Homo sapiens: one gene and its partner. The protein of the gene in region 2 interacts with the protein of the main gene of each other region in a biochemical or structural test. Each region holds a gene or a part of one and is shown on either strand. Other genes may lie near its edges.

The links. The genes of interacting proteins can lie anywhere in the genome.
Region 1: the proteins of RAP1A (region 2) and BMX form a complex in vitro, tested with the Homo sapiens proteins (one study listed by BioGRID).

The regions. Positions count from the first base shown.
Region 1 is NC_000023.11:15,517,807-15,524,806, reverse strand, and holds part of BMX (cytoplasmic tyrosine-protein kinase BMX), read right to left. Parts: intron 6,879-7,000; coding exon 6,814-6,878; intron 6,611-6,813; exon of another isoform or gene 5,880-6,610; coding exon of another isoform or gene 5,828-5,879; intron 2,462-5,827; coding exon 2,220-2,461; intron 1-2,219. UniProt on the Homo sapiens protein: Non-receptor tyrosine kinase that plays central but diverse modulatory roles in various signaling processes involved in the regulation of actin reorganization, cell migration, cell proliferation and survival, cell adhesion, and apoptosis.
Region 2 is NC_000001.11:111,692,789-111,699,788, reverse strand, and holds part of RAP1A (ras-related protein Rap-1A precursor), read right to left. Parts: intron 4,449-7,000; coding exon 4,380-4,448; intron 2,349-4,379; coding exon 2,292-2,348; intron 1-2,291. UniProt on the Homo sapiens protein: Counteracts the mitogenic function of Ras, at least partly because it can interact with Ras GAPs and RAF in a competitive manner. Together with ITGB1BP1, regulates KRIT1 localization to microtubules and membranes.

The DNA of each region.
Region 1 (7,000 bases), on a different chromosome or scaffold from region 2:
ATTTGGGGTATTAAGCAGAGCATGAAGAAGTGCCTACCTCTCAAAGTCTAAAGGCTGTTTTATCTGGAATGTGGAACCTATTTCCTGTTTGCCTTCATAGTCCAGACTTTTTTCAAAACCACAGTTCATAGAAACAAGTTTCCTTAGCAAGGAAATGCTCCCCTGGCTCTATTTCAAGGAATGCCTAGATAAAGCCCTTAAACTCTAAAATGCCTCTCTCTCCACCTTCCCAAAGAGCCTTGCCCACTAGAATAGCTTTTATTTAGCCTTGTTGTTTCTAAAAACACTTAGAGAATGTCCATCAATAGTGCATCACTTAGGTTTACCTAGTATCTATACAACTGGTACTTACAGACATTAAAAATAATCAGGCAATTTGCACAACAATGTAAATGTACTTAACACTACTGAACTGTATGCTCAAAAATAATTAAGATGGTAAACTTTATGTTATGTATATTTCACCAAAATTAAATGAAAATGAAATTTTAAAAGTCAGGTGTATCCTCATGTATTCAAATAGGAAAAATGCTGAAGATGTCAAGTGAAAAGAACAAATGACAAAGACTGTATCGTGAGAACTTACTTGCTTTTGTATGCACATGGCCACATGTGCATAGAAAACATTTTAGGGGAATGTAAATGGAATATTCTGTAATATTTGAATGATTTAATGGGGGCATAGATTATCTTACTAAACAGAAAGTAGATTAAAAAGAAGCTCAGGGAAGATTGTAAGAATGACAGAAAGTTGATAAAAAGTATTATCCCATATATGAGATAAGAATCATGGCTGCACTTTAAAAAGTCAAGCTCCATGAAGACCTTTTAGCAATTATTATAATTTACTTGCAGATGCAATGCTGCTCATGCTAAGAGGTGATCAATCAATCCTTTGTTAAAATAACTAGCTTCCTGAAGTTCTAGGGAAAATCCACAGTTGGGACTAAACCTAAGGAGGTGCAAATCTAAAGGAGTGTCAAAAACTCAATAATGGCAGCAACCCCATGTGAATCGACAGTTCCTCCTGGTTATTTGAAAACAGGGCAGTCAGCTTCACCTCACACCTCTCTCAATGAATCACTGGAGTTTCTGTCAGGAAGGGGACCTGGAACACAATTAACATGACTTTCACTCTCCTTGCAACTGGGTTTACTGATCCTCTCCTTCCACAAGAATGGTGGGCTGCAGGCGCACAAATGTAACCCCATACCTTGGGCACCAGGTATAGATTAATACACTAGGATTCTAGCTCCACTTTGGAATGAAAGGGACCATGGCTTATTATACTGAAAAAAAATCAAGAAGAACACACTTACATTATTTCAAATTCCATATGGCCCTGTATTATTGAAACTTTCAGTAATTGGCTTTAGGCAAAAATGATGAAGATGGAAAGAACAAAGGAATAAAAGGACATGGGAAAAATAACTAAGAAAAGAGATACATGGTGAGTCAGAGAGATGCTCTGTATCCATTGTGGGGAAAGGCAGACATGACTTCCCTGCAGGGATGCTGATAACTGAGTGAGAAGATGGCAGAGAGTAGACAACATGATAGGAAGGAGGTCTGAGACAGGAAATAAGGAAGGGGAGTCACTTGACCCTTTCCATATGGTCATCTTGCAATTCAATTCAACATTTATTGGGCATCAAGTGTAGGGCAAATTCAGTGCCATACCAAGAGATACATACATACACAATTTACATGTTGCCTTCAAGGAATTTTCAATTCTGGCTTTAGATAGAATCTTTAGGCTAAAAACTGTGAGAAGACTAATCAGGTCAGGAGAGGTGAGGTTGTACATTCCAAGAAGGCAAGCCATGGCCTTGCTTGAAATGCTATTTGCCATTTGGCTAGTGATACTGAAGCACATTACAAAAGTAAGCCCATCCTAAGCTCTTTCATATAAAGGATAGATTTTTAAAGATTCTGTATTCTGGAATGTGGAGATATTTGGGGGGAGAAGGAGGAGAAAGGGAAGGGAATACAATGATCAGGCATTACTGAGATCATTAGATTGGATAATCTAAATGGAAAATCTATGCTTCTCAGCCCCAGTGGGGCCACTGCTTCCCCAGACTTCTGGCTCAAGCACTGAACATTTTCTGAGAGGACAGCCTAAGACCTGGATCAACAGCTTTGAGGCTGAGGTCCAGGGCAGCCGGGGTAGTGTTTACTCTACATGCTGGGCAGCCCGTCTGAAAGCTGGGGATTACCTTTTCAGTTTTCTTACTTGCCACCAGTCAGGGAAGTCTTCCCTTGGAATATACTGCATGTTGAAGTTTGGCTGGGAGCCATAGATTTTCTTTGAGTTGCTGTCATATTGCGCTAGACTGGTACTTGAAGATGGTGGCTGGGAGCCATAGTTTTTCTTTGATTCGTTGTCATATTGGGCTAGAGTGGTACTTGAAGATGGTGCATCCATTTTGAGAACAGGAACTGCCCGAGGTATCTTCAGCTTTGGAGGGGAAGAAATTTTAATACATCACAGTGAGGCACAGATTCAGGTACCGGGAACTGACAATTAAGTATATCAGCTCTTGAAAGAGAGAGAAAGGAAGGAGAGAAGGGAGGGAGGAAGGGAGGGAGGAAGGGAGGAAGGAAAGAGGCAAGGAAAGAAGAAAGGTATGAGCAAGGATATGGAGCAACTGGAACTCATATTTTGCTGGTTGGAGTATGAAGTGGTACAACAACATTGGAAATTTGTTTGCAGAATCTAGTAAATCTGGATGTGCATCTGGTCATACCCTATGACTCATAAATTTTACGTATATATACACAACAGGGAAACCAAAAGACCTGTAAAAGAATGTTCATAGCAGAATTATTTTAATTAGATAAAAACTAGAAACTGCCTACATGCCCATCAAGAGGATAAAATAATAAACATGTTGTGGTTGTTGAAGGCTGAAAAATGGTCTCCCGAATATGTTCATGTCCTAATTCCCAGAACCTGTGAATACCTTACGTGGTAAAAGAGACTTTGCAGATTGTAATTAAGGATTTCGAGATGGGGCAACTATTCTGGATTTTGTGGGGGTGGGCCTGATGTAATCAAAATGGCCTTTATAAAAGGGAGATAAGGTGGTCAGAGATTAGAGAGCTGTGAGGATGGAAGCAGAGGTTAGAGAGTAGAGGTCCTGCAACCTTCTGGTTCTGCAGACAGGGGAAGGAGCCAGGAACCAATAAATGTAAGTACCCCTTAGGAACTGGAAAATGCAAGGAAACAGAATCTTCCCTAAAGCTTCCAGAGGAAACACAGCTGTGCAGACCCATTTTAGACATATGATCTTCCAAACTATAAGAGAATAAATGTATGTTGCTTTAAGCCACTAAATTTGTGTAGTAATTTGTTAGAACAGTAATAAGAAACCAAAACAGTTGTATATTCACACAACTGAATTCTATACAATGATGACGGTAAATATAATCACATACTAAAAAAATAAGCGAATCTCACAAATTGAAGAAAAGAAGACACACAATAAATGACTACACACTTTATAATTCCAGTCATATAAAAGTCAAAATCAGGCAAACAATCTATGATGTTATAAATCAGGTTAGCAACTACTTTTGGAGGGTAGTAGTGACTGAAAGGGAACATCAGGGTGTCCCTGGGGTTCTGTGATGTTGTGTTTCTTTATCTGAGGGTGGATTATACAGAATTGTTCAGTTTGTGAAAATTCATCAAGCTGAACACTTAGGATTTGTGTGCTTTTCTATGTTAATGTTATATTTCAGTTAAAAATTCACAATATGTGTGTGTGTGTCTGTGTGTGCGTGTGTGACAGAAAGAGATGCATTTAATATTTTTTTCATGCTATATTTTAGTTTTTCAGAAATTTCATTTACTTGGAGTTAAGGCTTTGACATTCTGGAAATTTTAATTATGCAGGACAGTGTTATTTATGAGCTGTGAAGTGGGTTATGTCCAAAGAAAAATGCACTAGGAAGTTCCTTAAATGGAAATCATTTAAGGAAATCTCTTTGAACAGAACAACTAGAGAGCTGATTTTTATTTCCTCCATTCAGAAAATAAGCCCTCTACTGAATACTCTGATAAAAAACAAAACAAAGAAAAACATACTTTACATGATACCCTCTGATCCCTGGTTCATTTGGGAAGCTTATAATCAAAACAGGCTTATGAACCCTTAGCCACTGATTTGCCTAGCTGATAATTTTCAATATATTGGCCAAAAAGTTCCCTGCTGGAGACTAGATGCAATGGTTTCTGGCTCTTAATTATCTTCTGCTCTTAGACTTGTCAAAACAAACTTTATTGGTAGTTCATCCTTTTTAAAGTGCAGAATTCAGTGACTTTTGTAAATTTATCAACTTGTATAACTATCACCACAGCCCAGTCTTCCCATCACTCCAATAAGATCCTTCATACCTATTTGCAGTCAATTCTCATCCCTACTCTGGTCCCAGGCAACCACTGATCACCCTTTGTTTCTATAGATTTGCCTAATCTGGGCGTTTCTCCTAGGTGTTTTAGAGGGCCATACTTTTCAAGCTTCAGGACTGAAACATATTTTCAAACCCAAACAGCAATGTTGCTAATAACAAAGTAAAACTCCTAACGATTATAATTGTTTCCTAGGGCTACCATGACAAATTGCTACAAGTTTGGTGGATTAGAACCACAAAAATTTATTGTTTCACAGTTCTAGAGGCTAGAAGTCAAAATCAACATTTCAGCATTGCCATACTTATTCTGAAGCCTCTAGGATAAAATCTTTCCTTGCCTCTTCCAGCTTCTGGTGGTTCCAAGTTGCTATGGTTTGGATATTCGACCCCTCCAAATTTTATGTTGATGTGTGATCTCCAGTGTTGGAGGTAGAGCTTAATGGGAGGTATTTGGGTCATAGGGGCGAATCCCTCATTAATGGCCTAGTGCCATTCTCATGGTAGTGAATGAGTTCTCACTCTATGATTTCCCATGAGAGCTGGTTGTTGAAAAGAGCCTGCTATCTCCCTTCCCTCTCTCTTGTTTCTTCTCTCTCACCATACAATTTCTGCACACACTAGCTCCCCTTCCCTTCTGCCATGAGTGGAAGCAGCCTAAGGCCCTCATCAGATGCCGATGCCAGTGCTATGCTACTTGTACAGCCTGCAGAACGGTGAGCTAAATAAACCTCTTTTCTTTATCAATTACCCAGCCTCAGGTATTCCTTAGTAGAGCACAAATGGACTAAGAAACAGGTGTTCCTTGGCCTGTGGTAACATAACTCCAATCTCTTCCTAGGTCTTCACATGGCCTTCTCCTCTGTGTATCTCTCTGTGTCCTCTCATCTTACTAGTCATTGGATTTATGGCCCACTCTCATCTTTCGTGTGATTTCATCTTGATCTTTAACTAATTACATCTGCAAAGATCCTAGTTCCAATAAGGTCACATTCTGAGGTTCTACATGGATATGAAATTTGGGGGACATTATTCAGTCTACTACAATAATGGATTATTTTTGTCTTTCATGTTGATTCATGAAAATTATGTGGCTTTTACTTAGAAAGAGAGAAGTGTGTGCGAATGTGTGTAGCTGAAAATAAGTACCCAAGACACCATAGATCCAATAGATGGGCGGAGATGTCCCCTTGCTTTCAGGTGAACTTCCAGAGAACCAATGGGAAGCCATTTTTTGTGTATCCTGGCATTTGAGGAGGCTCACACCTGCCTGGGAACCCTAAAAACAGAAGGCTGTGGCTATGAACCCAAGAGAGTAGAGCAAAAAGACAGCAGTAGCCTGTACTTCGAGAGAGAGCTACATACAGCTTAATTAACCAGAGCAATCAAGGTTTTGTTTGTTTTCTTATAGGCCAACTCCACTCTTGGGAAAAAGTTGGCTGACAGCCATCTTGAAAGATTGAGGGCTGAAAATCCAAGAACTGAGGATCAAGATCTCTCCCCTGTCATAAAACTACATATGGATCTGCCCTTCAGTAGGAAATTCCTAAAAGTCTCCCATGAGATAAAGAATCAGTGCTGGAAAACTCACTCCGATACCACCACCACCAAATCATGATAGAAACAGCTATGTGTGTCTTTTTTTAATTAGACCTCATCTTCCTTGGAACTAACTCTGAAAGGGCCATGAATCTCAGCCCCCCCAAAATCCCTCCCCAAAAGCATGCTGCCAGGTGATGCAGGCCCAAGCTAGGTGACAGATGTTTAACTTGGAATGATGTTTGCAGTCATGTGATAATAACATTGGATGGAACAATTCAGAGGCTGTTCTTATGATTACAAGTAATGGGGACATTTTTATCATTTGAGAATGACTGCAAAACTATGGAATTTGGCAAAGACTTTATTTGGAAGCAGGGAAGAAAGCCCACTGAATAGCTTTGAAGGGATAATGGAGGGAAAGAATTATGTTGTTTTCTGCTTTTGTCCTATAGAGTTTCATTTCAACACCAGGATACTTCCACAAAGCAGTCTTGGCCATGTTGATGGTAAGGAAAGAATGACAGCTAATAACAGCTGCCTGTTATGTGTGATGCCATCTTAAGGACATCTCCCGCATGCACCCATTTTTTCTTTTTTTTTTTTTGGTGACTATTTATGGGCTTACTGGCTAGGAAAAGACACAACAATGAAATGCAAAAATATGAGATATTACAATGGTTCTATATTTGAATCCGCTATTCAATACCACCCATAGCTATTATCTAGAGCTCATGGTTTTTCTCTCTTTGCTGAGAAGTCTAAATGAATTCCACATTTTCTAGTCTTGAATCTGGCAACTCTTGGTTTATTTAATATATCCTGACCATGAAAAACATTTTTAAAATGTTGACTTACCACTCTGTCTGGGAAGGTGGGAACTCTGTGTTTCTCTTCATTGACTGCAGTATGCAGATTAGCATCTGAACATTAAAACAAAGTAATATCAGAAGGAACTTTAAACAAAACAAAGAGAAACACTCAATGTTATGAATTAAAAGAATGAACCAGCTTGTGTGAGCAATACTCCAGATTAAGTGAATCC
Region 2 (7,000 bases):
GGCACTAAAGGAAATGAGATGGCCTGGGTGCAGTGGCTCACACCTGTTATCCCAGCACTTTGGGAGGCCAAAGACAGGAGGATCCCTTGAGTCCAGTTCAAGACCAGCTTGGACAATATAGTGAGACCCTGTCTCTACAAAAAATTAAAAAAAAAAAAAAGCTAGGTGTGGTGGTATGCACCTGCAGTAGCACCAGCTCCTCAGGAGGTTATGGTGGGAGGATTTCTTGACCCTGGGAGGTTGAAGCTGCAGTGATCTGTGTTCACACCACTGCACTCCAGCCTGGGTGACAGAGAGAGACCCTGTTTCAAAAAAAAAAAAAAAAGAGGAAGTGAGATGGATAAAGAAAAAAGTAGTGAGTAATGGAGGATAAGATGCTTGGAAATTAGATTAGAGAGGTATTATACTTATTGGTAATCACATAGCCTAGAGTAAAACCATGGTATGAATGCCTTAAAGGTAGGATGGACATCAAGGAAATGACAGGCCAAGCCAGGGTAGTAAATCATTTATAATATCCATATAGATTCTATATGGATAGTAAAATCACTAAGAATTCTGATTGAATCAGTGTATGTGAAAGAGAGAAAGCAAAAATCTTCAAAGTGTAAGGAGTGATTTTGAGACAAGATTATGCAGCTGTTTGTAAGGTTTTATGCAAGGTACTGGGGACACAAACAAGCAAATAGGCCTTATAACACAGCGTGTTGAGTGCTAGATGGGAGACAGACACGATATTGGATAGCACAAAGTAAAGATCTCTGTGATAGAGAACTTCCTTCTTACAATCTGGACAGAGAAAGAAGAATGCCCGTACACTGTGGATGTGATTTAAAAAAAAAAAAAGCAGAAAGTATTCATTTTAGCTATTAGGGTCTCTGGAAACAAAGGGGAATTCTGCTGATTCAGAAGCTAAAAACATTAGAGAGCAGGAGGGTGGGAGAGGGAGAGATAGCTTGATTCAGCTGATAGAAAATGTAGTTTCAGAAGGTCTTTACCAGAAGCTTGTTGTGAGGGCAAAGGTCCCTGATAAGAGTTAAGCCATTTTCCCAAAAAAGAATGGAAAAATACAGTATAATTAGTACTATATTGTTGTATAAAATCACTCCAATTTGCTTACATGCTTTTTTGAACTATCTGAAATGTTTCCATCATTTATAAAAATTATAGTGGAAAACTTTGTGCTGAATTTTAAACAACTTATCACATTTAAAAATGCCAGCCAGGTGCCATGGCTCACACCTATAATCCCAGCACTTTCAGAAGCAGAGCCAGGAAGAACACTTGAGGTCAGGAGTTCGAGATTAGCCTGGGCAACACAGCGAAACCACCTCTACAAAAAAAATTTTTTTATTAGCTGGGGGTGGTGGTACGTGCCTTTAATTCTAGCTACCCAGGAGGCTGAGGCAGGAAGACTGTTTGAGCCCAGGAGACTGCGGTGAACTATGATTGCACCACTACACCCTAGCCTAGGTGACAGAGCAAGACCTCGTCTCTTAAGCAAAACAAAAAACGAACCCATCCATTTTAAAGCTAAGAATTGCCTAATGTGTCAAGTCTATGTGCATGGAGAAAAATAAACAAAGAAAAGCAAAGATTGCTTAATGTATGTATTTTATGTGGCAGTATAACTGGAAACCATCAGTTATTAATAAAAATTATAAAGGTGATGGTATTAATGAAGAAGAATAAAAGCAAATACACAATTCCATACTGTGTAACAGACATTATGCCTAATGATTTATAATTATTAACTCATTTGCTTATCACAAACACCTTATGATGTACTAACATCATTATACTCATTTAAAGATTAGAAAAAGGAGGCTCAAAATAATTCTAAATCTTCTGAGGAAGATTTTTGCCTTCCTCAGAAAACATGTATCTGTCACCAGCCCCTTGAGATGTCAAAATGCTAGTGAAAAGAAAAAATTATAAAAATTAATGACTATGGTGCCAAGAGACAAGGTCTTATTTAAACCCATAGAAATACAAATATTAACTAAAGCTCTAAATTTAAAATAAATTTTAAAAAATCACTGACAGCATAATCCTTACCTCAATGTAGGAAGAAACCCAACACACAGATTATTACAGGTGAACTTTGTGATATGTGAGCATGAACTACATCAGAGTTGATTTCATATACTTAAGAATCCCTATGTTCAGAGAATTTCTTCTTAATCAGAATGATTACTTTTACTCAGAATTATCTGGATGACAAAACCTACTCAGATGACAAAACCTGCTCACAAATTAAAATCTATCAAAAAAAGAGAAAACATCCTTACTGTCCCTGCAGTATCCAGGATTTCGAGCATACACTGTTGGCAATCGACTTCAACTTGCTGTGGGGGCAAAAAAAAAAAAAAGGTTAAAGAGTAACATCAAAATCTCATTCTGTTTTCTTCCCACCTCTTCCATCAAAGTAACTATTAACAAATACAAAGCCTGTCTCCAGCAGTATGCTGTAATGGCTGGGGGTAAACTTGGTACCACAATAAAGAACAGCGGTCTCAAGTACAGTCTATTCATATTACAGAAGCCAAGATGGTTAATGCTGAGTTTAGATATTTTCTGACCTCTGTAACGATTCTTATTTGTTATTAGAAAAGGCAAAAGTCATATTTTGAAATTTAAGGAAAACTTCAACGAACAAGTATAGTTCTAACAGAAAAAAAAGTACATATGTGTATTTATATTATCTCCAAAGAAAACAAAGTACAAAAATATTAAATGGCTCAAAATGCGCACAACATTTTGGGGTAAAGAAAATCTTGCCAACTTACCATGTTCAAGTTGTTAAAATTTTACTAAAATATGCAGAAAATTAAATACACAGTAAAATCTGAGTTTAAGACATAAAAGAAACACAGGAGTACTAAAATAAACAGCAATGAGCTAAAACAGTGCCTCAAGAAAAAGGCACTTTTCTAGAAAAGCTCTATGTGAAAGGTGAAATTTTATACACTGAGTTCTATTTACCCATTGGTCTTATAAAAGAAAAGAAGGTTGGTCTAATGAAAGTATCAACTATCAACTGTGTGGAAAACTGTTTTAATAAAGAAGGGATTAAGAAAAGTTAGTCCCTTAGAATTTTAGGTACAGATCTTGCTTTGCAGTTAAAGCTTTAACTAGCAACTTACTTTGGGGAAATTTCAGTAGAGCAACACTGTCTTCTAAAAATAAATGTGCTAACCTAAAGACTATTTTAAACTCTGCTTCTGTGTCAGATCAGACATTGATGAGGGGCACCACTGGTCAGACCACAAACTCATCCACCCCACCACTTATGGGACAAGTGTGATAATCTGCAAAATTTGTAACTGGGAATGTTCAGTGAATAATCAATTAGGACTATAGTTTCTTGATGTATCTAGAGCATAATTCTGTTTCCAATTTGAAGACAATGAAACTGCTCTACTAGTAGTCCTTCATGAACTAACAAATTAATTCAACAAAAGTTACAGCACTATTAAAGGTAAATTCTAAAAATGTCTTCAAAAGCAATCCTTTCCTATTAAAGTTTAATCTTTTTAAAAAATATTCTTGGCTACTAGCCTTTTATAACCTCCACCCCACCCAATATATTTGACATAGAAAATACTGAAAATTTTCCACAACTCTGGCTGGTCTTCTACAGAATATTTTTTGTCAAGACCAAGTACCTAATTTTTTTTCCCTTTTAAATAGACTTTATTAGAGCAGTTTTAGTTTCACAGCAAAACTGAGGGGAAGGTGCAGAGATTTCCCACATACTCCTTGCCACCACAAATGCATAGCCTCACCCCACCATCAACATCCTGCACCAGAGTGGTACATTTGTTACAACTGATGAACCCACATGAACACATCGTTATCACCAAGAGTCCACAGTTTACATTAGGATTTTCTTTTGGCATGGTACATTCTATGGGTTTTGACAAATGTATGGCATATAACCCAATTATAGTATTACACAGACTCTAATTTTTTGGTAGTCTAAAGATATCTTTAAACTTATAAAACTAAACAAAAATAAAAATGTTCAGTCACTGGATAACTTCAAGCATAAAGGTGGTCTTAATTGTTGGTAACAAAAGAGTAAGTTGAAAACACACCTACTATTTATATGCAATTTTTTCATATGTGGCAACATTCCCCACCAGGAAAATGTCCACATTAAGGAACAAGTCACTAATCAGTAACAGAACATAGAGCTCTGAATATCAAAGTAGTATTCTGTTAAGAAATGTTCTGTCTTGATGAAACTTTTAAAAACAGATGCACAATATTTGTATTATTTCTCAAAACTATTTTCAAAAAGCAAATCTACAGATCAAATTTTAACATCATAAGGAACTACTTGTAAGCATGTGTGTACAAGTTTCACATTTTACCTTTCTGTAGGAATCTTCTATCGTTGGGTCATATTTTTCAACAAAAATTCCCTGAACAAACTGAACTGTCTGGGGGAAAAAAAAAGAGAAATATTAAAAAATTAAAGGAAAACTCCTTTGAATGTTACTTAACCTACAAATTATAATGATTAATTGAAATTATGTGAAAATTCTGGGTAAACACGTAAATGTAAAGTATATTATTAATTCTTTCAATATAAGGATACATCCATAACTAAGAGTACATTTATTATGAAAGGAGGTAGTCATGTTAAAAACTGTCATCAATACTGATAATACACTGTTAATTACATTAAGTCTTAATATACAAGGATACAAATAACATATCTGAACTAATTAAAACATGAAAAATTATCAATATTTAAACTCCTATTGCCCCTTTATATATCTATAGTAACTTTTATCCCATGCCCTCTGCCCTTAATGGAGTGACAAAGGTTCTAATTTTTTTTTAAACACAGGGTCTTTGCTATGTTGCCTGGGCTGGCCTTGAACTCCTGAACTCAAGAGATCCTCCCGCCTCAGCCTCCCAGGTAGCTGGACCTCAAGCAGCATCTTGTAAATTTGTTAAAGCCTTTCTAAATTGTGGTGGAAAAGAGAAAGGGAAATTTAAACTTACTGAATGTCTATTATGTTCCAGACATTAAGCTAGTCACTTTTAATTTATAACCACATTCAAATTTCACATTTGTCCCAGAAATAGTTATTCTTCCTATTTGCCAGCTGAGATTCAAACATACATCTTCCTGATTCCAAAGCCTTACTTTTTCCATTGGAAAATATTGCCCATTCATCTTTTTCAGATATTATCAACTTTTAAAGGCATCCAAAAGCACATACTAGAAAATACGTATTTATCATTCAGTAAGTGAAAAAAGTACAGAAGACGGTTTTAAGATATTTCCTAGGTAACTTTAAAACAGGGTCTGGTACATTATTGCCTAAAAAGCAAGGGTAAGAATGTGGACTGAGGTCATCTACACTTAAATTACTCAGAGGAATATTTGATATACTATTTTAGCTTGAGCTAAAGAGATTAACTCAAATATAGTAAACAAACTTCTTTCTCCTACTAAGCTTCTATTATTCAAAGGCAACTCAAGATATAATCACACCAAAAACCTTAATCATGATTTTTATCAAGGATTTAATCACCTCATCTTCTAAGTACGACACATAATTTAAATATACAAAGCAGTCTACGCTGGATGCAGTGGCTCATGCTGTACTCCTAGCACTTTAGGAGGCCAAGGCAGGAGGATTGCTTGAGCTCAGGAATTTGAAACCAACCTGGGCAACATAGTGAGACTGTCTCTACAAAAAATTTAAAAATTTAACCAGGTGTGGTGGCATGCACCTGTAGTCCCAGCTACTTGGGTAGCTAAGGTGGGAGGATTGCTTAAGTGTAGGAGGTTGAAGATGCAGTGAGCCATGATCACGCCACTGCACTCCAGGGCAAGATGCTGATTCAAGATTTAAAAAAAAAAAAAAGGCAGTCTAATACAGCTTCCTAATATGCTTTAGGCTAGAGCAGAGAGTCTCAAAATATGGTCCAAGGCAGAGGCTCCCTAAGGTCAAACTATCTTCCTAACAATACTAAGATGTATTCTAAGAGGTACTCTTCTTCTTCTCTCATAAGTTTACAGTGGAATCTTCCAAAGGGTATAGAACATGTGCTATTGAAAGAGACTGGATACAGAAGCAGGCAAAAGAGCCCATGTGCCTTCTATAAGCCAGACATTAATAAGACTTGCAAAAATGCAAAACAATCCAACGTTTCTCATTTCTTTCTTACTAAAAGTAATGTTTGACTACTCCTCTGAATCTTATCCTCTGTCTTAATTTTCAGGGACATCTCATTCATTCATTCACATAGATTATAATTTTATTCCTCAGGTTTTTGTACTGGATCATCTCCTCTTTCCCTCTCCTGTATCCTTATTTTCCTCTCCAGTGGAGAGGAATTGCCCCCAGCATACAAATATGCTTTACTATCTCCAATTCTAAAACAAAAACAAAAACCTCCCTTAACCCCAATATCTCTCCAGCTTCTGCCCCCATTCTCTGTCCCCTCTCATAATCAAGCTTCTTCAAATGTCTATATTCCATTTCCTCAGCTCTCATTTAATCTTCAACCCACCCCATTATGGTTATGGCAACATGACCTGACTAAAGCTGCTTCCTTTATCATGTCCAACTGCCTCTATGCTCTCTGATCATCTCTTTCCTCTTTTTTACTTGACTTTTGAGGAATCAAGTAAAGACACCTTCTTCTATGCTAGATCCTCCAATCCTATCTACTTTCTAAAGGTTGAGAGGTACTCAGAGCTCAGTCCTGGGCTCTGCTCTTCTCTCTCTAGTATCTCCCTAGACCTCTTTCACTCCTATGGACTTTTTCCAAAATTATTTTTGAAAAGGTAATTCATGGACATAGGACTAAATTCAAAAAGGCACAAAAGGCTATGCAGTGATAACTAAGCTTATCTACCACCCTTGTTCCCAGCTATCCAATCCTACTCCCAAGAAAGTAACTGATGTTATTCATAGCTTATTTAACCTTGAAGAGATACTCTATGATTTTACAGGTATCTACCCTCAGC